Regions from separate parts of the Homo sapiens genome. Here all the other regions are linked to region 1. Evidence: fine-mapped expression QTL. A gene starts in region 1. Each other region holds a variant in brackets. All regions are shown on one strand. Distances are between the middles of the regions. Region 1 holds the start of NEK4 (NIMA related kinase 4). Region 2 holds the start of STAB1 (stabilin 1). Region 3 overlaps SFMBT1 (Scm like with four mbt domains 1).

Region 1 (10,088 bases):
GTTTCAGTCGGGCGAGGTGGCTCATGCCTGTAATCTCAGCACTTTGGGAGGCTGAGGGAGGCAGATCACTTGAGGCCAGAAGTTCCAGCCCAGCCTGGGCAACATGGTGAAACCCCATCTCTACCAAAAATACAAAAATTAGCCAGGTATGGTGGCATGCGTCTGTGGTTCCAGCTACTCAGGAGGCTGAGGCAGGAGAATAGCTTGAGCCTGGAAAGTGGTGGTTGCAGAGAGGCAAGATTGTGCCACTGCACTCCAGCCTGGGTGACGGAGCGAGACTGTCTCCAAAAAGAAAGAAAGAAAAGAAAAGAAAGAGAGACAGAGAAAGAAAGAACAGAAAAGAAAAAAGAAAAGAAAAGAAAAGAAAAAAGAAAAGAAAGGGAGGGAAACAGGGTCTCACTTTGTTGCCCAGACTGTTTCAAAATTCTTTCAGCATCAACACACTTTTCAGTCATGCTTTGGCCAGGGAGGCAGACACGGTGGCTTAGAAAGTGTGTGACATCCAGCCATGCTGGTGATTCTCACAGTGCTAACCTGGTATTAGCTCTGTCAGAGACAGTCTGGACGGTCGGGGTGAGGCATGATGGGAGATCTGCGCTTTAGGCCAGTTGCTTCACCTCTCTGAGGTTCTTACCCAGTTCTAGAAAGAACAGAAGTGAGCTTCCTCGTTCCTGCACCTGGGCAGGGAGGCCTGGCAGATAAAGGGGAGCTGAAGATGAATGACATGTTTTCATAATCGAGGACTCATTTGTGTCATGCATTCCTCTAAACCCTTTATTGTCTAATTTTATCCTCGCAACGTTCCTGGGACACTGGCCCCATACCAAGAGACAGAACAGGGATTCAAACCAGGTCTCTCAGGCTCTAAAGCCCAAGGCCATCATGTAATGACAGAGAAGCAGACTTGAAGATCCTAGAGACAGGAGTTCCCAGAGACCCATCTTGCACCTGCAGTTTCTTATTTTTTTATTGCCAAACCCACCCTGTTCCCCAAAAACCACAGCATACTGGGCAGACAGGGCCCCTGGCCAGTCTAGTCTGTGACCTGGGTTGGGATGTGCTGGCTGCTGTGACCCTGATAAGAGGAGGGGGCCCAGAGCCCTCACTGATCTCTGTTTGCTTGTCCTGGACTTTGTCTCACAGAGCAGCTTCTGGGAAGAGTTTATTGTCCTTAGGCCACGGTCACCTTCTGGCCTGTCTTCTGGCCTTTGTAGAAGAGAAGCTGGATCGACATGACAGTGTACATTTGAAGTTCTGCTTATTTCCTGCACCAGTATCGACCAAGCCCTGCAGTGTGTTGGGCACAATGCCAGGCACTGAGAGGCCACCATACAGAAACCTGAGTGCCCTGCTGTGTTCAGTGAGCTGATGTCAGGGGAAAAGGGAATCAGACAAGTCAAAGGGAGCCCACTGAATCCCAAGGAGTGATGAGAAGCTGAAGAGATAGAAATTTGGAGGGGCAGAGGCTCATCTCCTGCAGGGATTAGGAGAAGGTTCCTGGATGAGGTGCCTGGAAAAAAGAGCAGTGCTTGGGAAGGGGAAGGCGGGAAGGGAGGGAGAGAAAAGCAGACGGGCAGGTGGGATGTATGCTGTGGGAAGGTAGAGGTGTCTGGGATGGGAGCAGGAGCTGATGAAGAGGGTAGGGAAGGTGGCTGGGAAGGGGGTTGGGACCAGCTGGCGCAGGGGTCTGAAAGTGATTAGCCTTTTGGGTGGGAGATACTTAAGATATTTTAAGCAAGGGTGTGATGAGTTCAAGACTGGGCTGTTGAGAGATGGCTAGCACCAAGCCTGGTCCATGTAAAGTGCTAGAAGCATGTTTGCACAGGGGGAGGGTGGACAGGAGATGGGGAGAGCTAACTATGACCTGTGCCTGTCATGCTTCTTAGCATCACGTCCGAATTCATTTACTGCTCACAACTCCCCACAAGAGACAGATATTATTGTTACTATTATCCTCATGGTACAGAGAAAGAGACGTTGGCCCACCATATGCATGTGGGAGGTGGGGGCCAGGGTGGACAGAAAGCAGCTATGGTTGCTGAGGATTGAGAATGGGGAGTGTAGCTGTGCTGCTGGTGCCGGTGGGACAGCACATGGGCCCAGACCTGCTCTGAGCGCCACCCACACACAGCCAACTGTCTGCTTGATGTGCCCACAGCCCCTCCATCTGGTATGTCCAAACTGAACTCCTGACCTTTGTCTCCTCCTCCCCACACCCCGTTACTAAGCCAGATCTTCCCCCTGTTGTCCACTCCAGTCAAGGCCACCGCCATCTAGTTGGCCATCCAAGCCAGAAGGCTGGGTGGCATCCTGGGTGCCTCAGTCTCCTTGACCACCTACCCCACCTCCCACCCTCTGAATATCCCTCTAATCCATTAACTTCTCTCCCCATCCCCCGTCACCACCTAGTTCAAGCTGCCCTCATCCCTCATTTAGACGGCTCATCTCCTCCTTCTGCTCTGCTCCAGGCAGCAGCCAGAGTCACCATTTAGAAAGGTCAGTCTGCCGCAGGCCTTTCCCTGTCTCGCACACCCTATCCTGAGTGGTATGGCCCCTGCTGACCCCTCTATGTCACCTAGCCCATGGCCCCTCTGAGTCTCTCAGCTTCAACTGCAGAGACTTCTTTTAGATCCAGGTAGGCAGGTGCTTCTCCATTCATTCATTCAGCAAGCGGCAATTCCTTCATTTATACCTGCTGGGTTTAGGGTGTTGAAGCAGACAGGCCTGGCCTCGTCCTCAGGGAGTTCACATTGCGGTGTGGAGGTAAAGTCACAAAATGAATCCACTGGATCTTAGCACATGTTGCTCCTCTGCCTGAAAAAGTTTTTGTTTAAACTTCCACTCATGCGGTGCTTGCTTGGGGCAACCTCTCCTGGATGGCCAGGCTGGGCCTGGCGGCTTTTCTGAACAGTACTGACCTCAGTTGGCAAGGGTAGCTTGTTAGTATGCATGGCCGTCTCCCTCTTCGACAGTAAGCCCCACATGGGCAGGCCCTTGTCTGTCTTGTTCATAGTTGTCCTCCAGGTCCAGGCTAGTAGACCCTTGCTAAATGTCTGTAGAATGAATGATAGGTTTTTTTTTTTTTTTTTTTTTTTAGAAGGAGTATTGCTCTGTCGCCCAGGCTGGAGTGCAGTGACATGATCTTGGCCCAATGCAATCTCCGCCTCCCGGGTTCACGTGATTCTCATGCCTCGGCCTCCTGAGTAGCTGGGATTACAGGAGCAGTGTGCCATAATTTTTTATTGTGGTAAAATATACAAAACATAAAATTTATTATTTAACCATTTTTAAGAATACAGTTCGGTGGCATAAGTACATTCATGTTTTGCATCCATCACCACCATCCATCTCCAGGACTTTTTCATTTTCCCCAGCTAAAACTCTGCACCCATTAAACACCAACCACCAATTCCCTCCTCTCTCCAACAACTGGCAACCACCATTCTACTTTCTGAATCTATGACTTTGACTACTACAGGTACCTCACATAAGCGAAATCATACTTTTGTCCTCTGTGACTGCCTTATTTTGTTTAGCATAATGTCCTCAGGGGTCGTCCATGTTGTAGCATGTCAGAACATCCTTCCTTTTTAAAAATTTATTTATTTTGAGACAGAGTCTCACTCTGTCACTCAGCTGGAGTGCAGTGGCAGGATCATGGCTCACTGCAGCCTCAACCTCCGAGGCTCAACTGATTCTCCCACCTCAGCCTCCCAGGTAGCTGGGACTACAGGCATGCGCCACCACACCCAGCTAATTTTAAAAATTTTTTGTAGAGAAGGGGGTCTCACTGTGTTTCGTAGGCTGGTCTCAAGTGATCCTCCCACCTTGGCCTCTCAAAGTGCTGGGATTAGGTGTGAGTCATAGTGTGTGGCCTCTAGAGCACTAACTTTAAAAAGCTACAATTACAAATCCTTCCTCTGTCCCTCTGAGATATATACCTATGTATTTCCTACAACCTAGGAATGTCTTTCTCAAGGACCTGAAATCCATTCCTTTGGAATGTAATCATCATAAAGGTAGGGCTCATGTCTCCCAGTCTATGTGGGAGAATAGAATCCTAACTTCCCTAATTGCCAGCTAGCAGACACAGTTGGCCTAATCACATTTACGCTAAGCACTCCTTTTAATTTTTCACTTCCCAGACTCTAAGTGAGCCCCTGCATGCTCCCCTGCCTACTCCCTTATTCTTCCTTTGGAATGCCCAATCACCCCTGCGCAAATGGAATGGAGTTCAGCTGCTTCCCCTACTGTCAGTAGTTACTGAATAAAATCTATTTTCATCATTTTAATGCCTGGCTTTGTTTATCTTTAATAATATCATTAACTAGAGTTCAATCTTTATTTATGGTTCTTTTTGTTTGGTTTTCTAGTGAAGATGAAATTGCTTTGAGTAAAATGTGCAAATACTAAATGTACCATTAGATAATTTTGACAAATTCATACACCCAAATCTCCTATCAAGATATATATCAAGGATGAGGAGAAATTTGAACCCCTGTGGATTGCTAATGGGAATGTAAAATGGTTCAGCTTGCTGTAAAAAATGGTGTGGTGGTTTCTCAATACATTAAACTAGAATTAGCATATGATCCAGCAATTTCACTTCTGAGTGTATACCCAAATGAATTAAAAAGAAAGCAGGGACTCAAACAGATATTCGTACACCCATGTTCATAGCCGAATTATTCACAATAGCCAAAAGATGGAAGCTATCCGTGTCCATGACTGCATGAATGGATAAACAAATTGTGGTGTATACATATAATGGAATATTATTTGGCCATAAAAAGGAAAGAGGCCAGGCACGATGGCGCACACCTGTAATAACGGCATTTTGGGAGGCCAACGTGGGTGAATTGCTTGAGCCGAGGAGTTCAAGACCGGTCTGGGGAACATAGTGACACCCTGTCTCTGAAAAAAAATAAAATAGGATTAGCCAGGCATGGACGTGTGTGCCTGTAGTTGGGAGGATGGCTTGAGCCCAGGAAGTCTAGGCAGCAGTGAGCACCATTGCACCACTGCACTCCAAGCTGGGTGGCAGGGCGAGACCCTGTCTCAAAAAAAAAAAAAAAAAAAAAAAAGGAAAAAAAGGAAGCGCTCTGGGAAAGGGAGGCTTTGGCTGGAACAAATGGTGAATTCTTTTGGCACCCCTGAGCTTTCTTGGGCAGGCATTTTAAAGGGGCCTAGGCCCACCTAGAGATCCGCCCTTAGGCTGTTAACTTAGCATGATGCCATGTTAGAGTTTAGTCAAGTCTCTTAGTGCAGTGGTTAGGGTAGTCGTTAAATGCTGAGGAGTCTTTGTAGTTCTCAATTAGCAGGCGAGTTTTTAGGGATGAAAGGTACTGATAATTTACTTTGAATGTATCAAAAAATAGGATGGATTGCTGGATGCAGAGACGGCATGTGATAAAGCGGATACAGCAAATGTTACTGGTAGAGAGTCTGTCACCCAGTCATTAGAACATGAGCTCCAGGAGGGCAGGGACTTTGTTGGCCTGGCACATAGGCGGTCAACAAATATTTGCAGAATGAACGAACAATACTTGTAACGGCCTTAGGACAAACAAGTGCACAAAAAGAGGAAGCTTTCCCTGACTCTGTTGTGGCGGGGATCCGGACGGTGGAACGGACGCACAGAAAGTGCGCGGAGCCTGGCGGAGTCGCTCTGGCCTCCTGGAGCCTCTGCTCTATGGCGGGTCCTCCCGGGGCTGCGGAACCTCTCTGGCCGCTCGTGGCGTCCGCTCTATGGCCGTCCTTTGGGGACGCAGGAGCATGCGCAGAACTGCTCCCGGCCCGGATCGCTATGGCAGCGGCGTCGTCGCGGGCCGGGCCCCAGCAATCCCGCCCGGGCCCGGCTGCCTCAACAGCCGCCCCCACTGCCCCCTCTCGGGCATGAACCGAGCTTCTTGTTGCCGCCCGCTGCCCTACCCGCCGCTGCCGCCGCATCCCGACTCTGGGCCAGCGCTGGGAACATGCCCCTGGCCGCCTACTGCTACCTGCGGGTCGTGGGCAAGGGGAGCTATGGAGAGGTGACGCTTGTGAAGCACCGGCGGGACGGCAAGCAGGTCTGCAGGGGTGGGGCCCGGCAAGGGGCGGGGGCGGGCAGAAGTGCGCCGAGGGCGCCGACCGGTAGATTAGGTCGGGGGTGGTCGCAAGAGGCTCATCTCGGATGGCGTTTCCTCAGGGAAATGGTCCCAGACCAAGACGAGGCCTGGCCTCCCTGTAATATGCGCCCAGAACTACTTCTACTTCTTTGTTGTGTTAAATTTTTTTCCTTTTAATTTTCATTTTCTTTAATTACAATTCTAAGTTTTATGTAAAAATTTTCAGTCTCTGCCTATCTACTTCTTTGTTGTACTAATTGGCATGCGTGATCTACACACCTTTCTCCCAACCCCGATACTCTCATGAGAGCCGGTATCATGCATTCCCAGGACTTAATACAGCGCCTAGCAAGCATTATTCCTTGAATGAAGGGCCCCAAACGTCTCTACTGTAGACTGCTGGATTCACTTAAAACTCGACTCATTTTCTTCCCGCCAAACCTTCTCTCATGTCTTCCGTTTCAGTGAATAGTGACACCAACCCACCAGTTGCCCAAGCCGGACACCTGGAGTCATTTTTAAGCCTCCCCACGCACCCCAACACTGATTATATTCATCTATCACTAAGACAATAGGCCTCCTCTCATCTCTACTGCTACCACCCCAATCCAGGACACCCTGTTGTCTCTAGCAAAGCTATGGCCACGGTTTCCCAACTGGTCGCCGCCACTTGACTTGCTTTTCTCCAATCCATCACTTTCACTGCAGCCTCAGTGATCTTTCTCAAATTTAAATCTGATGTTGTCACTCCTCTGTTTAAAACACTTTATCCCATTACTCTCAGGATAATGAACCAATTATTCAATGTGGTTTATTAATAGGGTGACAATATAATGTACAAACTGGGACAATTTTGAAACTGAAAGGCATTATTAATAGTTACACCAGGACAGTAGGACTGCTCCAGGCAAGCTGAGAAGAGATGTTCCCCCTAAATATAGGGCCCAATTGCCTGTTCTTCCTTGTCTCTGGTGCTAGTTGCTTTGCGTGGAACACAAGCTCATGCATAAGAAATTTATTCAGTAGGCATTGGGGGAATCATTGGATTTTGGGGCTGATGATAGGGAACTAGCAATAGCTAGTTATTTGAGCTTTAGTTTACACTTCACAAAACACATTTATCTATGTGTTGAAGAAATGAATTGTATGGTCTTTGAAATGATTGAGGGCAATGTATTAGGTATTAGAGGCTATTGATTTCTTTTAAGTGTGAATAATTTTGTATGCTGAAGATCAGTGACTATTAAACTTATGGGGCCATGGATCCCTTTGAGTATCTAACGTAATCCACAGACTATTCTGTCTGCAAATGTATAGTCAAGCTATATTTTATTCACCTTTTTGGGAGAGCTTAGATATTAAGGAATTTCTTTTTTTATTTTTTATTTTTTTTGAGACAGAGTCTTGCTCTGCCTCCCAGGCTGGAGTGCAGTGGTGCGATGTTGGCTCACTGCTGCAACTACTGCCTCCCAGGTTCAAGCAATTCTCCTGTGTCAGCCTCCCGAGTTGCTGGGACTATGGGTACACACCACCACGCCGGGCTAATTTTTGTATTTTTAGTAGAGACAGGTTTCACCATGTTGACCAGGCTGGTCTTGAACTCCTGACCTCAGGTGATCCACCCGCCTCACCCTCCCAAAGTGCTGGGATTACAGGTGTGAGCCACTGTGTATGGCCAGATATTAAGGAATTGCTAACACAGGTTTTATAATTGATCCAATGGTATGTTATCTTGAACTCACTTTTTTTAGTCATTAATGAAATTGTGAAATGCAGATGGGAAAGGTAATTTTTGTGGCCCTACACTGCTATAAATCTAACTTATAAGAAGTATCAATAATAGCAAATATTTTCCCCGATTTTGTGCTTGGTGAAAAACAAAATGAATAGGTTATCTGACAGGCTCCACAAGGTTGGTTTTGAGGGTATTCTTGAGAGCCCTTAGATAACTCTGAGGCCACAAATCTTACGTTTATTTGCACATTGTAAAAATACATGGTTTGTTTTTAGTATGTCATCAAAAAACTGAACCTCCGAAATGCCTCTAGCCGAGAGCGGCGAGCTGCTGAACAGGAAGCCCAGCTCTTGTCTCAGTTGAAGCATCCCAACATTGTCACCTACAAGGAGTCATGGGAAGGAGGAGATGGTCTGCTCTACATTGTCATGGGCTTCTGTGAAGGAGGTGATTTGTACCGAAAGCTCAAGGAGCAGAAAGGGCAGCTTCTGCCTGAGAATCAGGTGGTAGAGTGGTTTGTACAGATCGCCATGGCTTTGCAGGTACTGTGTAGACTAATAGCATCCTAGCTTGTTCCCAGATGGCAAGAAGATGGCAGGTGTATTTTAGGAAAATTTTTCTTCAGATACTTACATATAGAAATGTATTTTTTGGAAAATTCATTTGTGAAGTTGACCCAGTCACTCTTTCTGTAGCATTGGAACTTTTCTAAGTAAGTGATACCTATATTAAAATAGACATAGATTTCATGTCTGATTGCAGGGGAAGCCCACTCAATTACCATTTATAGCAAAGTCAATTTTAAGGACCCTGAGGCAACCAAGAGCATAGAGTGACTATGTTTGTTATCCATTGGTCAGTCGTGTCATGCTGAAAGGTGGCTAGGCTAATTGATATGCCCAGTGATTTCATCTGTCAGTCTGCTGGGGTACAGTAGATGGGAATGCAAAACAAGTTTTCTTTTTTTTATTTTTTAGAATTGGGCAGCACATCATTCCTTAAGATGGAATAAGTGTTCCTACAAGTTTGTGTTTTAATATGCATATAACTCAAAAGCGAGACGTTTATGAAATACTATTTTGGAACTGGGTAGACTTGTCCAGAATTAATTGACCATGTTTAAATTCTGAGATACTTTCTCTCTTTTTTTTTTTTTCTTTTGAGACGGAGTTTTGTTTTTGTTATCTAGGCTGGAGTGCAATGGCACGATCTCGGCTCACTGCAACCTCCACCTCCCAGGTTCAAGCGATTCTCCTGCCTCAGCCTCCCAAGTAGCTGGGATTACAGGCGCCTGCCACCATACCTGGCTAATTTTTTTTTTTGTATTTTTAGTAGAGATGGGGTTTTACCATGTTGGCCAGGCTGGTCTCGAACTCTTGACCTCAGGTGATCCACCTGCCTCGGCCTCCCAAAGTGCTGGGATTATAGGCGTGAGCCACCACGCCCGGCTGAGATACTTTCTCTAAATAAAAATGCTCTTGCTGTACTTGAAAATATTATTAAGCTGAGGATTTCATGGGTCTGAGAGGACTGTGCGTCTGACTTTGTATAAGTTGTCCTACCATCAGTGGAGTTTGTAAGCATTGTTTTTTTTTTAAGACAGAGTGTCACTGTCGCCCAGATTCGAGTGCAGTGGCACAATCGTGGCTCATTCCAACCTCCACCTCCTGGGTTCAAGTGATTCTTGTGCCTCAGCCTCCCAAGTAGCTGGGATTATAGGCGTGCGTCACCATGCCCAGCTAATTTTTGTATTTTTTTAGTAGAGATGGGGTTTTGCCATGTTGCCCAGGCTGGTCTTGAACTCCTGGCCTCAAGTGATCCGCTCACCTCGGCCTCCCAAACTGCTGAACACTGCGCCTGGCCTGTAAACATATTTTTTTTTTTTTTGAGACGGAGTCTCGCTCTGTCGCCCAGGCCGGACTACGGACTGCAGTGGCGCAATCTTGGCTCACTGCAAGCTCCGCTTCCCGGGTTCACGCCATTCTCCTGCCTCAGCGTCCCGAGTAGCTGGGACTACAGGCGCCCGCCACTGCGCCCGGCTAATTTTTTGTATTTTTAGTAGAGACGGGGTTTCACCTTGTTAGCCAGGATGGTCTCGATCTCCTGACCTCATGATCCACCCGCCTCGGCCTCCCAAAGTGCTGGGATTACAGGCGTGAGCCACTGCGCCCGGCTTGTAAACATATTTTTAAACTGGATTCATGTAATGCCAAAATGGTATAATTGTCAAGCTACCAGGGAACAGT
Region 2 (10,088 bases), 270 kb after region 1:
TTAGGAATGGCTCTCCCTCCTTGTGAATTACATTGCACTTGCTGGGTTAAAGGATGCTCTCCCAGCCCCCGCCCGCCCTGAGCTGAAGTCCCTGGCCTCTGAGTCCAGGCTCACCTCGGCATTCACTGCCCTGCTGTGTGTAGCCGGGCAGGCACCTGCAGCTGGGAGCCTCTGCGGAGCACTGGGTGTTCTGGGGACAGCGCAGCTCCTGGCAGACGGGCAGCTCTGCGCAGAGTGGAGAGAGCACTGATGAGCCCAAGCCCAGGCTGGGGAGGAACACAGGGGCAAAGGGGCCTTGCCTGTTCTGTGTGACTTGGAGCAGGGCCCTGACCTTGCTGGGCCTCTGGACAGTGGAGGTCTCAGATGACACCCCTTCCCCAACTAGGCTCCAGGCGGAGGTCCTGCTGAGGCTCAGGCCCCATCCTCACCCAGTCGGCCTCTTTTGCTCTGGCCACAGGGACCTGCTGCCCTAGGCTATCCCAGTGGCGCTGCTCACCTTGATCACAGTGGGGGCCAGTGTATCCAGCAAAGCACAGGCAGCTTCCATCCCCACGTGGCCCATGGTTGCACACTCCGTGCACACAGCTGCACACTGGGAGGGACACACAGAGACAGATGGGGCCCCAGCCTCTCCCAGGCACACACTGGGACATCGGGTCCCTGCTCTCTGTATTTTTAGAACTCAGCTCGGGCAGGTACAACCTTAAGAGTACAGAGCTGTGATGCGGGACCACAGGGGTGGTGGGAGACCACAGAAGGCACTGGCCCGGCCTGGGGCTCACAGAGGGCTTCCTGGAGAAGGCCTCTCAGGGGAGTAGCATGTGCAAAGGGCTGGAGGTGTGATAAAACAAAGCACATGTTCCTGAAAGGGATGTGCAAATCTGAGGGGCTGGGACAGAGGCTGAAGGGACAGGTGGGAGCTGGTTGTAGGTACTGCATCTGCGTGGGCCCCCAGGTGGACGCTGGCCGTGCCCTCTTGCCTTTTAAGCACTCACCCGATTGGCAGTCAGGCCCGAACCGGTTGGGGTCTTGGCACTCCTGGCAGGCTGAGCCGCGGAAGTTTTCCTGGTGGTGGATGCACCAAGTCAGCGTGGCCCCTCTGAGCCTCCACCCCACCTTGCCCAGCCCTTACCTGGCACACACAGGTCCCATTCCTGTCCATGCCATCCAAGCAGGTCCCGTGGCCATTGCATGGGGTCTCAGCGCCCCCAGGGCATTCTGTGGACCCCCACAGTACTCAGCTCTGTGCCCAGAACCCTCCGCTTACCCTGACCCCAGCAGCTCTGGCCAACCCCAGACTCGGCCCCTCCCCCAAGGAAGCAAGAGCAAGGGGGCCGAGCCTTGGAGGCGCTCGGTGAGTATTAATTAAACAAACAAGTTGAAGGGGAATGCAGGTGGCTCCTGCAGAGGGCTTGCCCAGAGCTGGGGCTGGGTGGGAGGCGCAAGGCGGGGTCCCCCTTTCTCCCATACCATGGCACCGGGAACCCCAGTAGCCAGGGCAGCAGGCCTTCTGCACCACTTGCTTCCGGCACTTCCGTCTGCAGCCGCTCATGGACACCATAGAGCCCCCCAGCTGTACTTCGTAGCTGGGGGCAGAGGGTGGGCAGGGTGATGGAAAAGGCTCCCTTGCACAGCCCCCACCCAGCCTCCCCACATTGGCTTCCGGGGCTCCCACCCACCTCCCTGCTCTGCCTGGCCCAGAGCTGAGCACAGGGCCTAGCACATAGCAGGTGCCCCATAAACCCCTCCTGCCCCTCGCCTTTACCCCTTCCTCCCCGCCTATCTCCACCACCCAGGTGGGGCCACAGGGGCATGGATAAGTGAGTGCTTCTCCTCATTTTGTGGGCCTGTCAGGCTCCCCGAGTCCCTGCCACCCCACAGGATGCTCCTGGACACAGGCAAGGACAGGGGTGGCCCGCACCGGCAGTCCTGGGTTATCTGATCCGGGAGCTCCCGCAGCCAGCCTGAGGGACACGTCTGCTTCTTGATGGCCGCGCACGAGGTGCAGGGTACATGAGTGACAAACGTGGTTTTCACATCACAGCCTTTGAACAGCACCTGGGGCCACAGGCAGGGTGTGGTCAGGGGCCTGGACCCCACGCCCAGTCCTGACCCTGTCCTCAGTGCTGCAAGGGCTCACACCCCTCCAGCTGCCACTTCCCATCTGCTCAGGGGTCAGAGTAAGCAGAGGGTTCTGGGCACAGAGCTGAGTTCTTTGGGGGTCCACAGAATGCCCTGGGGGCGCTCAGTGGGAATGCAGTGCAGATGGGGAAGGCCCTGTGAAACCTGTCTGTTACAAGTTGTTAATGTCACATCGAGTCCTTATGTGCCCGGCCCAGAAGGCTCTGAGTCCACACCCTCTGACACTAGAGAATCTAGCCACGTTGCTCCCCCAAGCCCATTTCAGGTGAGAAAACTGAAGCCCAGGACATGGCCGCTACCCAATCTCATCCATGAACAGGGTGTGAACCAGGGACTAAACCCAGATTCCCAGCCTAGTGCTCACTTTTGCCTTTTGTTTAAAGATAAAGAAACAATAAATGACAGAGCTGATGCTGTCTTGGGAGGACACGGCGACTCCATCCTCAACTCATGGGCACAGGCACGATGCCGGCTCCAGCCATGCACCGTGGGGCTGGACCTCCAGCCACCACTCTGCTCTGAGCATTTTCCCACGTTGCTACCAAATGACCCTCTCTAACCAAGCGCAAGGGCTTTCTCCGCTGCCCAGGAATCAGAGACTAAGGGCCCTGGCCCTGAGAGGCTGGGCTCACGTGAGCAGCTGTGTGCAGGGACTCTGGTCTGCAAGTGTTTGGGCTGGGCAGTCACAGGAGACAACGGGCCATGCCAGCCTCTGAGGAAACCCAGGGCATCCTGGCTGGGGCCCCAGGTGGTTTCCTGAGGGAGGTGGTCATTGACTTGGGACCTGAAGGATGCATGAGAATTGGTCAAGGACAGTGCTCCTGGCCTAGGGGACAGCAGAAGCAAAGGCCGGGAGTGGAAAGAAGTAAAAACAAATGTGTGACAAGGCAGGCAGTGGCCCGAGGGGAGGCTGGAGAGGGGCTGGCAGCTGGGGTGCAGGAGCTCCGTAAACCTGGGTGAGGCAGAGTCCAGGGCAGCCCCATGACTCAGTTTATGGTTTTTTGTCTTTGAGAAAGGGTCTCGCTGTGTCGCCCTGGCTGGAGTGCAGTGGTGTGACCCTAGCTCACTGTAATCTTGAACTCCTGGGCTCAGGCGATCCTCCTGCCTCAGCCTCCCGAGTAGCTGGGACTACAGGCATGTGCCACTGTGCCTGGCCAGTTTTTTTTTTTTTTTTTTTTTTTTTGAGATGGAGTCTCGCTCTGTCGCCCAGGCTGGAGTGCAGTGGCGGGATCTCGGCTCACTGCAAGCTCCGCCTCCCGGGTTCACGCCATTCTCCTGCCTCAGCCTCCCAAGTAGCTGGGACTACAGGCGCCCGCCACTACGCCCGGCTAATTTTTTGTATTTTTAGTAGAGACGGGGTTTCACCGTTTTAGCGGGGTTGGTCTCGATCTCCTGACCTCGTGATCCGCCCGCCTCGGCCTCCCAAAGTGCTGGGATTACAGGCGTGAGCCACCGCGCCCGGCCGGCCAGTTTGTTTTAAATTGGCCCTCTGGCTGCTGCATGGAGAATACAGTCGCAGGGGCAGGTGTGGTGGGAAAGAGGCCATCATTACCTGAAGGTGGCCTGGGCCAAGGCAGGGACAGTGGAAATGGATTGGGAGATATTTGAGAGGGCTTGGGGTGGTGAGATGAATTGGGAGAAGGTCTCAGCAACTGGGTGGGGCGTGGAAGATGTGAGGAGTCCAGCCTGCCACCACGGCATGGGCACAAGGATGCTGACAAAAGCCCCAGGCCTGGAGTCCCATTCACTGGCCTGCCATAGCTCCTGGAAGTCCACCAGCCTTCTACGGCAACAAAGTCCCAGCAACCTTCAGCACTGAACCAGGAGGCGTGAAGCTAAACTCCCAGTTCTAGTGGGAGGAAGGGGCATAGGGAAGGGGCATAGGTTGGAGGGGAGGTGTTTGGGAGGCTTTGGGCATGGCCCAGAGAAGTGGAGATGTTCTCATCTTGAAAAATGCTGACCACACTGTGGTCCAAAGGGAGTGACCCCAGAACATCCCTTTCCTGGAATAATTTACAGATGTGTGGCTTCTCAAAGCAAGAGAAAAGGAGAAATGGTGCCCCTGACACTTTCTTATGGCAAATACCAGGGCCCCAGAGCCTCTGTGCTACCGTGATTTGGCCTTTTCCGCTCATGCCTCTGCGGTCTGCAAACAGGGAAGTTGCTCAGAGCAGCCTGTGTTGAACGGCGGAGCTGGGATGTTGTGGTCTCGTTCCCCATCCTGAGGCTCGCCTTTGCTGAGCCAGGGAGAGACTAGGAAATTGGGTAACTTGAGGGCTGAGCAGCTGCTGGCTCAGGGTAGAGGCTTGGCAGGAGGTGGGCTCCCCTCAAAGCCACCTGGCCAGCTGGGCAAAGCTGCCAGCGCGGTCACCATTCTGGCTGTGGACCAGCTCTTGGAGGAATGGTGGTCAGCTCTGGATAAGGGCTCAGGCTGAGTAAGACTGTGCTGGTCGCACTCTGAGACAGTCAGGGCTAGATGGAGCGATGGGTGAGTTAGGGCCCAGAAGGAAGCGGGAGCTTTGGGGCCTGGTGTGGACACTCACTCACAGGACCTGGGTGTTTGTAAACGTGTGTGAAATGCTGATGAATGGTAAGCCTGCTGCCACATCAGTGCTTCTCCGAGACCACAGCCGAGGGGCCCTGCCTCCGCCCCATGGCCTGGAAGGAGCATCGGCGGTCTGAGCCCACATCTTGCCGTTGGTCCAGCTGGGTGGAGTGAGGCTGGATCACGGCCTGAGTGCTGAGTCAGATTCCCTCCTTCCTGGGGGCACCTCGGGACTGAGCCAGAG[C/T]GGGTGCTGTCTCCCCCCCAACCCCACACCCCCCGCAGACCTGATTTTGCAATGTCTGCTTCCCACAGAGCTGCTGCTGGGGGAAGTTGAGGAGACACGAAGTGTGAAGTCTTTGGTGAGAAGGTGGATGAAATTCTCCCAAGCTGGGACCTGGTTCATGGGGACTTTTTAAGGCTGAGAGCCCAGAATCTAAACCCTGTCAGAGAGGAAGGAACCCCAAACTGCTTCCCCCTACCTTTGGTCAGATCAGGGAGGGTGCAGGGCTGGGTTCTGGACCGTGCTCCTCTCCCGCCACAGGCTCCACTGCACACACCTAGCCACGTGCCCTCGGTGAAAAGCTGCTGAATGGGCAAGTGCTAAGGGCCTTCCAGGAAAGCCTTCCTGCCTCGCTGCCCAAACCCATCTTCACTCCAGTCCTGTTGCTGCCCTTACTGAACAGGTTACCCGGGATATCCTTTCCCCTCAGAGCTTCCACTCCTAATATAGTTGTTCCTTGGTGTCTATGGGGGACTGGTTCCAGGACCCTCCTCAGATACCAAAATCTGTGGATGCTCAAGTCCCTGGTATAAAATGGAATCGAGGCTGGGAGTGGTGGCTCACATCTGTAATCCCAGCACTTTGGGAGGCCGAAGAGGGTAGATCACCTGACATCAGGAGTTCGAGACCAGGCTGGCTAACATGGAGAAACCCTGTCTCTAATAAAAACACAAAAATTAGCCAAGTGTGGTGGTGTGCGCCTGTAGTCCCAGCTACTTGGGAGGCTGAGTCAGGAGAATCCCTTGAAGCTGGGAGGCAGAGGTTGCAGTGAGCTGAGATAGCGCCACTGTAATGCAGCCCGGACAACAGAGAGAGACACCATCTCAAAAAAAAAAAAAAAAAAAAAAAGGCATCGAATTCACATATAATCTATGCACATCCTCCCGTATACCTTAAGTCATCCTTAGACGACTTATAATACCGAATACAATGTAAATGCTATGTACATAGAAAAGTCTGAACATGGGGTTGGGCACGGTGGCTCACACCTGTAATCCCAGCACTTTGGGAGGCTGAGGCAGGTGGATTACCTGAGGTCAGGAGTTACAGACCAGCCTGGTCAACATGGTGAAACTAAAAATTCAAAAATTAGCTGGGTGTGGTGGCGGGCGCCTGTAATCCCAGTTCTCGGGAGGCTGAGGCAGGAGAATCGCTTGAACCTGGGAGGTGGAGATTTCACTGAGCCGAGATCACGCCACTGCCCTCCAGCCTGGGCTACAGAGCGAGACTCCACCTCAAAAGAAAAAAAGTCTGAACATGTTCAGTAGAGATGCCATTTTATTTCCTGAATATTTTCAATCCAGGGTTGGTTGAACCCAAGTACAGGGTGCACAGATACAGAGGGCCAACTGCACTTACAGTGGCTCTCGGCTATGCAGGGTGCTGGGATAGAGGCCACGTAGCTGTGTTAGAGTGGCCAGCACTGCTGCAGCCCCATCCACAAGGAGTGGTCAGAGCCATAGGTCTCTGACAAGGAAAAAACTCGAATCTGAGGCCCCTCACTGACCTCTGTCCTCACTGCCCAGAGCATGAGGAGGTGGCGGAGGCCTTTGAAATTCCCTTGCATGGTACACAGGGGGAAACTGAGTTAAGGGGAGGGCAGGAGCTTACCTGCAGGGCTCTCAGCACAGCCCTGGAACCCTTGGCTCTTCCCCCATCACTGTCGCCTTCTCAGCCTCATATCTTCCTGTCCCCAGCCCTGGCCTGGTCCTGAAGCTGGTGAGGCCCTTCTCCCTGCTGCCTCTCTGAGGGACCACAGGCATCCAAGAGAAAGCGCCTGATGGTGGCAGGGGGCCTAGGCCCCTGGCTGGACTGCCTGTGGGATCCTGGGCAAGTCCTCCCCGCTCTGGACTTTAGTCTGGCCATCTGTGCCATGGGGATAGTGGTTGCTGCTCCAGGAGGCAGACACGCTCAGCCTCACAGGAGAGAGACTACCCCCATCACCAGGGTGGGAGGCTCTTCCAGAAGCTCCCAGAGGCCCCTACCATGGGGCCTGAGCAGACCTGCAGCCAGGAGCCTGTCACAGGGACCTGACCGAGGGGCTGGCTGTGGCTGCATACCAGGACCCTGTCTGCTCGCCAGCACACACGGATGGCCATCACAGGCAGGGGTTTGGAGCATGGCTTTAGAGTGGGAATGGCCTGTCCCCATCATCCTAGGGCTTCGGGTTCCTCACGAGGAGGACAGGAGGAGTTGCCCCGAGGCTGTGAGGATTCAAGGGGACCTGCCCGGGGCTGTGGCTGCTCTGTGGCAGCTCTGAGGCTGAAGTGTGTCCTTGCCAGCTGCTCATAACCCCGGACACTAAGGGTGAGTGACTCATTCTGCTTCCCGGTACTCTTGGGGCTGGACACAGGCACACACATGTGCACACACTTGCCCCACGTGAATCTGTAGTCCTCGGGGGTTGGAGGTGATCACATCTTCAACCCCCAGGTGAGGGCCACATAAGACCTGGGCCTCCGTCTGGGCCAGAAGGGCAGGACAGGCCTGCCTCTGTACACTTCAGCTGCACGCTGGGGAGCCCCGGCCCCGCATAGTCAGAGGAGGGTGGGCTGACACACCCCTGAACCCTGGGTGGCTGGACGCAGACCTCAGACTGGGGAGGTGGGCACAATAGCCAGCCCCCAGGCCTGCTAAGAGGCCAGACAGGCGCCAGCTGCGGTTTCTCCCCAGGCCCCTGCCCCTCCATGTCAGTCCCTCCCTGTTCCCACCGCTGGCCGGCAGGGCCCAGACGCCGTGTGCCCCTGCGACTGGCTCACACTTACCTGCCCCCTGACGAAGCTGAAGCCTGCCAGGCAGAAGGCCAGGAGGCAGAGTGGGAGGAGGCCCCGGGGCCCCGCCATGGCTGGTGGGCACGCTGTCCAGGACAGAGTCGGGGCGTAGGGAATGAGCTCTAGGAGGCAGGCACAGCACAGGCAGGCGGGACGGGGCGGGCAGTGGCCTTAAAAGCAGCCCGGAGGCCCCGCCAGCTCACCCCCACAGGAACCCGCCAGGATTTCCTCCTGCATATCAGCAGCCTGCAGGCGGAAGGGAAGGTGCTGGCCACTGACCCCCCATGGGCGGCCTGAGCCCTGCTCGGGGCTTCCCGGCTGGGACCCTCCTGGCATCACAACCTGGAAGTCCAGGCCACCATGAGCCCCGGGACCTGGGCTCTATCAGAGGTTCTGAAGCAAATCCAAAGGCACACGTGAACGAGTCCCCCGCCTGCGAGCCCAGTGTGTTTCATTCAGAGGCTCCTGGGGTGCTGGTCGGCGGAAGGCAGGGCAGCCCCTGAATGGGTCTGTCTGTTCCTGCCTCCACCTTTCCAACTCCAGGGCGCTCATGGGGCTCTGACTCGCTACAGGCACCCTGCTAGCCCACCAGACCCACATCCCCTCACTAGCCCCAGCCACTCCTGAGCCGCTGGTCCTGCCCGCCAACCCCCATCCACCCTCCCTGCCTCCCTATCTGCCCTCCACTCAGCAGCCCATGCTCAGCCAGCTTGCTGCAGCACCTCCAAACCCCTCTCCAGCTGGCTGGTCTCTCTGAACTCTCCCCAGACAGGTCTGCTCCAGCCGCGCAGGCCTCTCTGCTCCTTCAGTGAGCTCTCCCGGCATGTGCTGCTACCCTAGATTGTCACACTCTGGCTCCTTCTCACAGGTGGTCTCAGGTCAAGGGCCACCACTTCAGAGCGCCTCCCTGGTCTCAGCCTGCAGGTGGCCCTGCACCTGGTTCACCTGGCAGCACCAGCCACCAGCTGACATTGGCTTGTTTCATTTGTCTCCCCTGGAACATTGGCTGTGGAAGAGTAGGGGCGCTGTCTGGCTGATTCGCACAGTGGATGCTCAATACACGTGTGCAGAAGGAATAAATGAATGGAGGTGGCTACTTTTATGATCCCTCTGTTACTGGTGGGGAAACTGAGGCTCAGAGGGGCTGGGTAGCTTGTCTGAGGTAATCAGTTTTCATATCCAATCCCAGGGCTACTGTCTGAAGCCACCACTGCCTGCACAGCCAGCACCCCCAAGAGGTGCAGTGGGCCCAGGCTGAGGGCCTCTGCGTGCCAGGGCTGCACGTGGTGGGCCTTGCCTCCAGTTGTCACTACCCCCAACTGCAGACGGCGTAACAGTTGGGGAGACAGGAGTGGGCCAGAGCCCGGTGGCCATCTGTAAATGCTTTGGTAAAGGCCAGGTTGGGGAAAGTTTCTCCTCCCCAGCACACCTCCACTCCCATCAGTTTGGAGGGGCCTTCAGGCAGGCCTGAGATCTGGCTGGGATGGGGGTTGCAAGGGGAAACCCTCCCCACATTCCCCACACCCACAGTCTTCCTGGGGGTGAAGGGTCCTCCAGGCAGGACCCCCACTCTGCTGGCACCAAGGGAAACGGGGGAACAGAAGCAGGCCTGGGACCCAGGCTGGCCACGCCACCCACCTCTCCACAGCCCTGCCTGGCCTGGCTGCCCCAAGGTCCTGGGGACTGAGGCTCCTGGCTGGGCCAGGATGAGTTATGTGGGGCTCATAGGCCCTGCTCTGGCAGCAGGAATGGGGTTGGGGAAGAGTGTGGCATGGGGTTGGCTACCAAAATCCCAGGTCCTACCTCAGCAGGCTCCCTGAAGCAACCCTCAGGGAGGGGCCCATGAGCCTCATGTTTCAGGGACATGAAGACAGACACAGATGGGTATGTGCCCCTCCCTCCACTGTCCACCACCTGGGTCCACCTCCCCACAGACCTCCCCTGCTGCCATTCAAGGGCCACCTTGGTGAGATGCCCCGGCCCCCACCAGCCACCTCAGACTCTGGGATCTCTCTGTCCTCCTCGCCCCTCCCCCACTCTCAACAGGGGTTGTGAAACAGGTGGGGTTGGGCCCAGGGGTGACTGACACATAAGACCTGCAGGACAGCCTGAAGAGGGTGGCATGCCCCGCACCCAGGCAGAGGGGCAGCGGCTGGTGTGTCAGGGGTGCCCTGAGGAGTTTCTTGTTTGCCCTGCGCTCATGGTTTAGCCACAGCCCAGCATGGCACTGTCCAGAGAGGCCATGGCCCTGTCATGCCTCCCATGTTCCAAGAAGCATCTGGCTCCTGGAGGGCTGCTCCTTCCTTTCCCCCAACCCCTCACCCTCCTGTCTCCAGGGCACCCTCCCTCC
Region 3 (10,088 bases), 210 kb before region 1:
GGCAGAGCCTGTTACTCCGTTGGGGAAAGACTTTGTTTTTTATGCTTTCCTGATGATTCTGACATTTTTGATGATGGCTGTTTATTACACTGATTTTTTTAGCCTTTTGGCTAAATTCAGTGTTATTCCATTCTTAATTCAGTGTTATTCCATTCCATTAAAGAATTAATAAGGAAATGTGTTTTAATTTAAAAATGTGTACTGTATCCTTTCATATGAATTAATCTGTTTTAGGGCCCTACTAGAATAAGATTTTAGAAGCTTATAGATGGCAGCATCTGTCTAGGTGCCATCCAGACTCTTGGTTACTCACCATTCTAAGCAGAACAGTATGGAACTTAGAAGTTAAATGAATGAATGAATAAAACAACTTGAGCGCAGATCATCTAGGGCCATCACTCTATGGTATAAGACATACCTCACAATTATCCTTGTATTCTCTGAGCTCCAAGAAAAGCCCCAGAGCCCAGAAACACTAAGGAGCTCAGGCTTGGGATCAGATGAGGGTTCAAATGCTGCCCCTGCTGCTTCCTATCTACAGTCATGCATGGCATGATGGTGTTTCAGTCAATGGTGGCCTGTATATATGACGGTGGTCCCATACAGTTATAATGGAGATGAAAAATTCCTATGGCCTAATGATGATGTAGTAGCCATCCTAAAGTCATAGTGAGATACCTACTCGTGTTTGTTGTGGTACTGGTGTAAATAAACCTGCACTGGCAGTTGTATAAAAGCATAACACATACAGTTATGTACAGTACATAATACTTGATCATAATATATAACTGTGGTTTATTTACTGTACTTTTAAATCATTATTTTAGAGTATATGCCTTTTATTTATTAAAAAAAAATTAACTGTAAGCCAGCCTCAGACAGGTCCTTCAGGAGGTATTCCAGAAGGAGGCACTGTTATCAAGGAGATGGCAGCTCCATGCATGTTATTGCTCCCGAAGATCTTCCAGTGGGACAGGATGTGGAGGTGGAAGACAACGATATTGATGATCCTGGTCGTGTGTAGTCCTAGGCTGTTGTGTTAGTTTTTAACAAAAAGTTTTAACAAGTAAATAAAAAGTTAATAGAAAAAAGTTATAGAATAAGGATATAAAGAAAAAATATATATATTTTGAGATGGAGTCTCACTCTTTCGCCCAGACTGGAGAGCAGTGGCACGATCTCGGCTCACTGCAACCTCCACCTCCCGGGTTCAAGCGATTCTCCTGCCTCAGCCTCCTGAGTAGCTGGTATTACAGGCACTCGCCACCACACCCTGCTAATTTTTTTTTTTTTTTTGAGACAGAGTCTTGCTCTGTCACCAGGCTAAAGTGCAGTGGCGCGATCTCGGTTCACTGCAACCTCCACCTCCCAGGTTAAAGCGATTTCCCTGCCTCAACCTCCCGAGTAGCTGGGACTACAGGCACCTGCCACCATGCCTGCCCGACTAAGTTTTTTTTTTGTATTTTTAGTAGAGATGGGATTTTGCCATGTTGGCCAGGCTGGTCTCAAACTCCTGATCTCAGGTCACCTGCCCACCTCGGCTTCCCAAAGTATTGGATTACAGACGTGAGCCATGGCGCCCGACCAAAAAAATATTTTTGTACAGCTATACAGTGTTTGTATTTTAAGCTATGTGTTATTACAAGAAAGTCAAAAAAATTTTAAAAATCAAAAAGTTTATAAAGTTACAGTAAGCTAAGGTTAATTTATTATGGAAGGAAGAAAAGTATTCTTAAAACAAATTTAATGTGGCTTACATGTGCAGTGTTTAGAAAGTCTACAGTAGTATACAGTAATATCCCAGGCCTTCACATTCACTCACCACTGACTGACTCACCCAGAACAACTTCCCAGTCCTGCAAGCTCCATTCATGATAAGTGCCCTATATAAGTGTTCCATTTTTTATCTTTTTTTTTTTTTTTTTCCTGAGACGGAGTCTCACTCTGTCTCCCAGGCTGAAGTGTAGTGGCATGATCTCAGCTCACTGCAACCTCCACCTCCCAGGTTCAAGCAATTCTCCTGCCTCAGCCTCCTGAGTAGCTGGGACTACAGGCGCCCACTACCACACCGAGCTAATTTTTGTATTTTTAGTAGAGACGGGGTTTCACCATGTTGGCCAGGCTGGTCTCAAACTCTTCACCTCAAATGATCTGCCCACCTTGGCCTCCCAAAGTGCTGGGATTACAGGCGTGAGCCACCTCGCCTGGCCTCATTTTTTATCTTTTATGATATATTTTGACTACACCTTTCCTATGTTTAAATATGTTTAGATACACAAATACTTACCATTGTGTTACAGTTGCCTACAGGTTTGTAGCCTAGGGGCAATAGGCTACACCGTATAGCCTAGGTGTATAGTAGGCCGCACCATCTAGGTTTGCGTAAGTATACCCTATGATGTTCGAATAATGACAAAATTGCCAAACAACAAATTTCTCAGAACATATCCTCATTATTAAGCGATGCATGACTGTGTATGAACTGACATGTTAACTTTTCCTCATCTGTAAAATGGAATTATCATTGTATGAGTTAAGCAGAATAGGATTAAATAAAAGATTATTAAAAAATAATAAACACTTAAATATTAAGCTTACCATGTGTTGGACAGTGTTCTGTGTGCCTAATTATTTAGTATACAATACATAAAAAGTGCCAGGCACATACATAGTAGGTACTCAAATAATCTTTTCTTTTTTCTTGATAAATGGTTAACAAGCATTTGTTCTGTTGAGATGAAGTTTCTGATCTGTGACTTGACATGAGAAAGCTGAGAAACAGCAACCATGAAATTACAGAATAATTTCAAGTCTTTTCATAACTGAACATGGTCTTTTCCTATAATCTTTTTATAATACTATTGGAATTGGTATGTTTTGACAGTGCTTGTGTTGGTGAATCAAATAGCTCCTGATTTAATCAGAACAAAGACATACTGTTTCAACATGTGCTCATGTTACTGGCTCCCATAAATAAAGCATTTAATTGATGAAAATGTAATCATATTTGAACTCTGGAAGAGCTACCGTTCCAGCCTATAAGATAATATAAGGATAAAGAATGATTTTAAATGCTTTTGACATATTCTGGTACAGTGAAAGATAATTTCAAAACTGCAATTTAGTCGTCTTGGTATCTGGCAAAGAGGAGGTGCTCAATATCCTGGTACTAATCAGTAATTGCTAAGGAAGCCGGGCTGCGAAGTGGTCATACTTAGCCAACTGTGGACCAGGGATTTATAGGGTGGTCAGCCTGATATTTCCAAACTCATTATAGTATGAATCATTATAGTATGAATAGACACACACACACACACACACACACACACACACACACACACACAGTATTTAGTATAGTATTCAGTATATATTATAATAATATATATTACCTATATTCAATATAGTATTCATTATAGTATGAATTTTTAAAGATTATTTATGCCTGAGATTATTGAAAGACATACATTAAAGAAAGCTAGAAAATTTGTCATTGAAGTGCCTGTATTGGAAAGTATGTGGGTGTTGAAATTGGAATGTTAAAAAACAAGGCAGCATAAATTACTGAATTGCTATGGGGAAATGCCTTCAAGGCTGATTGGTAAACCTAGAGAACGTGAAATGTAAGATGGGATTGAAGCCAACAAGGAGGTTCCCAAGGGGCAAAAAAAAAAAGAATTGGCCCCATTCTTGCTGTCTAAAAAAGTTTTTTATGATGTTCAAATGAAGCATCGTGGGTGAAAAAAAGCTTATAAATTGGAGACACTACACAGATAGTAATTATACTTTTGTTGATTGAAAACATTTTCCTGAAAACTCCAAGAACAAACCTTTAGTGGTGAGGGAAGTAATCATATTGCCCTATTTTGCACTGAAGCTCATCATAATTTTTCTTCCTCAAACCATTCCTACTTCAGACTTCCCTTTTTCCATAAGTGGCAGTTCTATCCTTCCAGTTGCTTAAGCCAGAAACTTCAGTCAGCCCAGATACTGCTCTTTCTCTCATACACCAAATCCATCTTACATCTTCCTCCACATTTTCACTTCTCCTGTCCTAGACCTAGCCACCAACACCTTTCACTTGGATTATTCTGTGGTCTTTTTAGTTGGTCTTCCTGCTTCTGCTCTTGCTTTCTTCTCACATAGCTGCAGAGTGATCCTTTTAAAAGATAAATCAAATTATGTTCCTCCTCTGCTCAGAATCCTTCAATGGCTTCCCCAAAGCCAAAATCTTCACAGCAGCCTGCAAGTTCATATAAAATATGACTCCCTGATAGCTTCCTGAGTTCATCTCCTAGCATCTCTGCTGTGATCATTTTGTTCCAACCACTGTGGCCTCAAATACGCCACACAAGCTCCCACTTCAGAGACTTTGCTCTTTTTGTTTTTCTGCCTTGAATATTCTTCCGCACGTACCCACATGGCTCACTTCCTCATTTCCCTCTGGTGTTGTTTTGTGTTACCTCAACACTAAGGCTTTGATCACTCTGTTAAAAGTAGGACTCCCTGTCCTCCTCCCTTGTTCAGTTTTTTTCTCCTAACATTTGTTTTCATTCAACATACATATTATAGTTGACCCTTGAACAACACAGGGGTGTTGACCCCACACGCAGTTGAAGATTTGCATATAACTTTTGACTTCTCAAAAACTTTACTAATAGCCTACTGTTGACCAGAAGCCTTACCACAATAACATAAGCAGTCAATCAACACGTATTTTATATGTTATATATTACATACTGTTTTCTTACAATAGAGTAAGCTGGAGAAAAAATGTTACAAAGAAAATCATAAGGAAGAGAAAATATATTAATATTGACTCTTCACTGAGTGGAAGTGGATCATCATAAAGGTCTTCATCCTTGTCATCTTCACGTTGGGTAGGCTGAGGAGGAGTAAGAGGAGAGGTTGGTGTTGCTGTCTTAGGGTGCCACAGGTGGAAGAGGGGAGGAGGCAGAAAGGAAGGCAAGAGGGGCAGGTACACGTGGTGTAACTTTTCAGAAATAACATTATAGTTTCTGTCTGAATGTTTGCTTTTTCCTTCCTCTAAAACTGTTTCTATATGGTATCAACTCCTCTTCCACTGTTTGCTTTAGTTTCAGTGCCATATCATAGAGGGATCTTGTCATAAAAGCAGTCCTGAGTAATCCAAACCCTTCTGCCAGATTGTCAATGTTGATTTATTTTCTGGCACTGCTTCTTCTACATCTTCTTCTTTATTGGCACTGGTTTTGGAATTATTCATCTCCATCAAGTCGTCTTCTGTTAATTCCTCTGGTGTGCTATCTATTAGCTCTTGAATTTCTCCACGATCTATATCTTTTTTTTTTTTTTTTTTTTTTTTGAGATGGGAGTCTTGCTCTGTCGCCCAGGCTGGAGTGCAGTGCCGCGATCTCAGCTTACTTCAACCTCCGCCTCCTGGGTTCAAGCGATTCTCCTGCCTTAGCCTCCTGAGTAGCTGGGATTACAGGCATATGCCACCATGTCCGGCTAATTTTTGTATTTTTAATAGAGACGACGTTTCACCTTGTTGGCCAGGCCTGTCTGGAACTCCTGACCTCAAGTGATCCGCCCGCCTCAGCCTCCCAAAGTGCTGGCATTACAGGCGTGAGCCACCGCGTCCGGCCCATGATCTATATCTTAACCCTTCACCTCCGACCTTTTTGGCCGTATCTACAACCTCTTTCATGATTTTTGTGATTGGCTCTGTTGTCAATCCTGTGAAGTTATGCAGGACATCTGGACAATTTTCTCTAGCAGGAGTCTATTGTTTCAGGCTTGATGGCTTTCAGGACTTTTTCTATAACAATGGAATCTTCA[A/G]TAGTGTAATCCTTCCAGACTTTCATGATGTTCTATCAGGGTTCTCTTGCATAGTGTTGACAGTCCTTTCCATAAAGGAATGTGTGTAATGAGCCTTAAAGGCCCTTATGAGCTCCTGATCTAGGGACTGAATTAGAGACATTGTGTTTGGGAGCAAGTAGACGCCCTTCACCAGTTTTGGTGTTGAACTCATGGGGTGAGTTGAACTCATGGGTGGCTTGGGGGCATTGTCAAATATCAAAAGAACTTGAAAAAGCAGACCCTTACTGGCAAGGTACTTCCTGACTTCAGGGACAAATCATTGATGGAACCAGTTCAGAAAAAGGGTTCTTTTTGTCCAGGCCTTAATGTACAACCAAAAAACTAGCAGCTGGCTTTTATCTTTTCCCTTCGAGGCGTGGGGGTTAGCGGGCTGTCCTGATTATAAACCTAACTGCACTTGCTCAAAATAGTCAAGTTAGCCTATCCTTTCCTCCCTTAAATCCGGGTACTTTCTTCTCCTTACTAATTAATGTCCTTTGTAGCACATTTTCCCCCAAAATAGAGCACTTTCATCAGCATTAAAAACCTGTTCAGGTTGGGTGCAGTGGCTCATTCTTGAAATCCCAGCATTTTGGGAGGCCAAGGTGGGAGGATTGCTTGAGCCCAGGAGTTTCAGACTAGTCTGCTCAATGTAGTGAGACCTCGTCTCTGCAGAAAAGTAAAAAAAAAAAAAAAAAAAAAATTAGCTGAGCATGGTGGCATATGCCTGTAGTCTTAGCTACTAGGGAGGTTGAGGTGAGAGGATTGCTTGAGCCTAGGAAGTGGAGGTTGCAGTGATCCGAGCTCATGCCATTGCACTCCAGCCTGGGTGACAGAACAAGACCCTGTCTCAAAAAAATTCCACAGAAACCTATTCAGGTGGAAATCCTTTCTCCTTAATGATTTTCTTAACTGGCATTGGGGAACTCATTTGCTGCCTATTGGTCAGCAGAAGCTGCTTCTCCTCCTAAAGTTTTAAAGCCAAACCACTTTCTAAAATTATCAAACCATCCTTTGCTGGCATTAAATCCTCCAGCTTTAGATCCTTCACCTTTTTTTTTTTTTTTTCTGAGATGGAATTTCGCTCTTGTTGCCCATGCTAGAGTGCAGTGGCATGATCTTGGCTCACTGCAATCTCTGCCTCCCAGGTTCAAGTGATTCTCTTGCCTCAGCCTCACGAGTAGCTGGGATTACAGGCATGTGCCACCACGCCCGGCTAATTTTGTATTTTTAGTAGAGATGGGGTTTCTCCATGTTGGTCAAGCTGGTCTCGAACTCCCCACCTCAGGTGATCCACCCGCCTCGGCCTCCCAAAGTGCTGGGATTACAGGCGTGAGCTACCGCGACCGGACTCCTTCACCTTTCTTTTGCTTTGTCATATAATGACTTTGCTTTTTCTCAAATCATATGAAAGTTTATAGGTATGCCTTTCTACAGCAGTCGTGCACCCACATAAAAGCTGCATTTTCAACATGAGATAAAAACATAATTCACACAAAATGCGAGGTTTTTGCACCTGTTGGCGTAGCTGCAGTGATGGCTTCACAAATTTCCTTTGCTTTTTTTTTTTTTTTTTTAAACAATGGTCCTTGTGCTGGATTTACTTATCTTGAAATGGAGGCAGCTGCAGCTGTAGACCTCAATCTATTGTACATATCAAGCAATCCAGCTTTTTCTTATAATGTCACCACTTCTTTCTGCTTCTTGAAAGCACGTCCAGCATCTCTAGCGGTACTTTCTATGGGTCTTACGGTGTTATTAAATACAGTACTGCACTAAGCATCATGAAAAATGTGTAAGAACCATGGGAGATCACTTTTTATTGTGATATTATTTATGCATTTTACTGGAGAGACGAATTGCCCACGTGGAGATGATTAGTGTCATACAGCATTTTACGGAGATAGTCGCAACACTTGAGCTCAAGGCAATAGCAACAGGAGATAGCTGCAAAATGATTTCATATTGCAAATGATGCAATATGTACTACACTTAATTTTGTGTAGTTATGATGTAAAACTGCATCTTTAGGTTTGTTTACATTTCTCAGGACTGGGAATGACACCATGTACAGTCTGTGTTTGTATAAGTTTTGATATTTTTTAACTTTTAATAATAGATTTGTATATAAAAGTGGTAAATGATAGACTAATAGGTACATGTATTTTATGCATTCACAACACACCTTTTTCTTAATTTTTTGATATTTTTAAGCTACATGGTTTGTCTGCAAGTTTTTTCAAATTGTCATAAATCTCCAAAAATTTTTCCAAGATAGTTATTTTTAAAAATCTGTAAGTGGACCCATGTAGTTAATGCCCATGTTGTTCAAGGCTCAGTTGTATTTATTTTATTGCTGGCTATCTACACACTTTAGATTATGAGATTCGTGAGGGCAGGTTTCAAAATATTTCTTCACCTAGAACAAATGTGGTGTGGCGATAATAAGTGCTCAGTAAATATTTATTGACAGAATTCCATGACTGTTCATAGTATCACTACTATTGATTCATGAAGCCTCCTTTAAGTAGAATAACTGCTATTCACTGTTAATATAAGTTCTGGTGAATGGCAATACTAATTTAAGCACTCTGTTACTAATGGTGGGAAGTGCCATACTGTAGTTTGCAGCTTCCTTTGTAGTTGGATGGGGTCTTGTGACCGGATTTTAATTAGTGGAATGTGGGTGGAAGGGACGTACCACTTTTAGGTCTGTCCCATGAAAACCTCCCATGTGTGATCCCCTACAGTGAATGATTTGTGAAGACTTTGTTGAAGGTGGTAGAGCTATGTGGCGGAAGGCTTTTGGCTTCATGAATAATCACATGGTGGAGAGTTGCCTACTGATTAGGAACACCTGTTTGGACTTCATCTGAGTGGGAAATACATATCTGTTGGATTAAGCAATTGAAAATAGAAATTTATCTGTTAAAGCATAACATTACCTTAACTGATACAAACCAGTAACAGCCAAATTATTTTCTTTCTCCTTCTGTTGCATATCCTAAGGGTAACCCAGATATCTTGTCTCTTTTTTTTTTGTCATTGGCTTCTGTATTTGAAATGTTATTTAAAAGCACAGTTATGTCCTTGAATATAAGTACCATTTTTATAGTTTTACTGAGATATATTTCACAGACCATAAAACTCACTTATTTAAAGTTTACAGTTTTTTTATTCACAGAATAGTACAACTCTCACCACAGTCTAATATTAGAATGTTTTAATACCCCCAAAAGCAACCCTGTACATATTAGTAGTCGTTATCCATTACCTTTTCTCTACCAGCCCTTGGCAACCACAATCTACCCACTTGTCTCTGTGAATTTGCCTCTGTGGTCATTTTATATAAATGGAAGCGTATAATATGTGGCCTTTAGTGTCTATCTTCTCATGTACAATATTTTCAAGGTTATCCTTGTTGTAGTATGTATTCGTACTTCATTTCTTTTTATGGCTGAATAATATTCCATTATATTAGATATATTACATTTTACTTAACCATTAATTGGTTGATACATTTGATTTGTTTCTATTTTTTGACTATTATAAATAATACTACGAACATTCATGAACAAGTTTATGTTTGGACATATGTTTTCAAATGTCTTGGGTATATATTGAGGAGTGAAATACTGGCCCATATGGTAACTCTATGTTTAACACTGAGGAACTGCCAGACTGTTTTCCCAGGTGGTTGCATCATTTTACATTCCCACCAACATTGCCTTTACGTTTTGTTACCCCCAGAGGAGTAGGGTCACCTGGTAAGTATAGTTCCTTAAGGGCTGTAGGTGGGGGGTACTCACAGAGGTACATGGGAGTGGCAGGCAGTGTGAAGTTGACCTCTCTCCTGCCTCTTCTCCTTCTACTTGTTCTTGCTTGCTTACTTGGCACCAACTACCCTGGCCTCCCTGCTATTCCTAGAACATAGCTCACTCTCACATGCTCTCCCTTTAGGCCCTTTCTGCTGGCTTTTCCCTCTGCCTGGCATGCTCTTTCCTTCTGTAGCTCCCTCAAGTCTTTGTCCATATGTTACCTTCTCAGTGAAACCTCCTTTCTCTCTACCCGATTTAACCACCCCACACTGTCATTCCTCCCCAGCTCTATCACTTATGACATTTAGAAAAAGTATTATACTTTCTTCCTTACACTAAAATATAAGCTTCATGAGGGCAGAGATTTTGGTCTGTTTTCTTCACTGATATATCTCTAATTTTTTTTTATTGTGCCTGACACATAATAAGTTT

The links. PIP is the estimated chance that this variant, and not a neighbour inherited with it, causes the effect. A credible set is the group of variants that fine-mapping cannot tell apart.
Region 2: its variant is the best candidate, but not a certain one, in a credible set for the expression of NEK4 in sun-exposed skin (GTEx, PIP 0.80).
Region 3: its variant is the best candidate, but not a certain one, in a credible set for the expression of NEK4 in whole blood (TOPMed, PIP 0.79).

Annotation. Positions count from the first base shown.
Region 1 is chr3:52,766,634-52,776,721 of GRCh38, reverse strand. NEK4 (NIMA related kinase 4) reads left to right here and starts at 5,782. Exons shown (of 16, transcript NM_003157.6): 1 at 5,782-6,068; 2 at 8,118-8,384. The coding sequence starts at 5,976. RefSeq lists enhancers at 5,651-5,700, 5,488-6,005 and a silencer at 5,861-5,970.
Region 2 is chr3:52,493,136-52,503,223 of GRCh38, reverse strand. STAB1 (stabilin 1) reads right to left here and starts at 7,886. Exons shown (of 69, transcript NM_015136.3): 1 at 7,733-7,886; 2 at 1,922-2,058; 3 at 1,471-1,586; 4 at 1,133-1,218; 5 at 996-1,065; 6 at 497-592; 7 at 115-225. The coding sequence starts at 7,810. The variant C/T (reference allele first, on the strand shown) is at 4,932.
Region 3 is chr3:52,977,983-52,988,070 of GRCh38, reverse strand. All of the region lies in intron 1 of SFMBT1 (Scm like with four mbt domains 1), which reads left to right. Among named protein-coding and RNA genes, the nearest start is that of SFMBT1, 63 kb to the left of the region's middle. The variant A/G (reference allele first, on the strand shown) is at 5,818.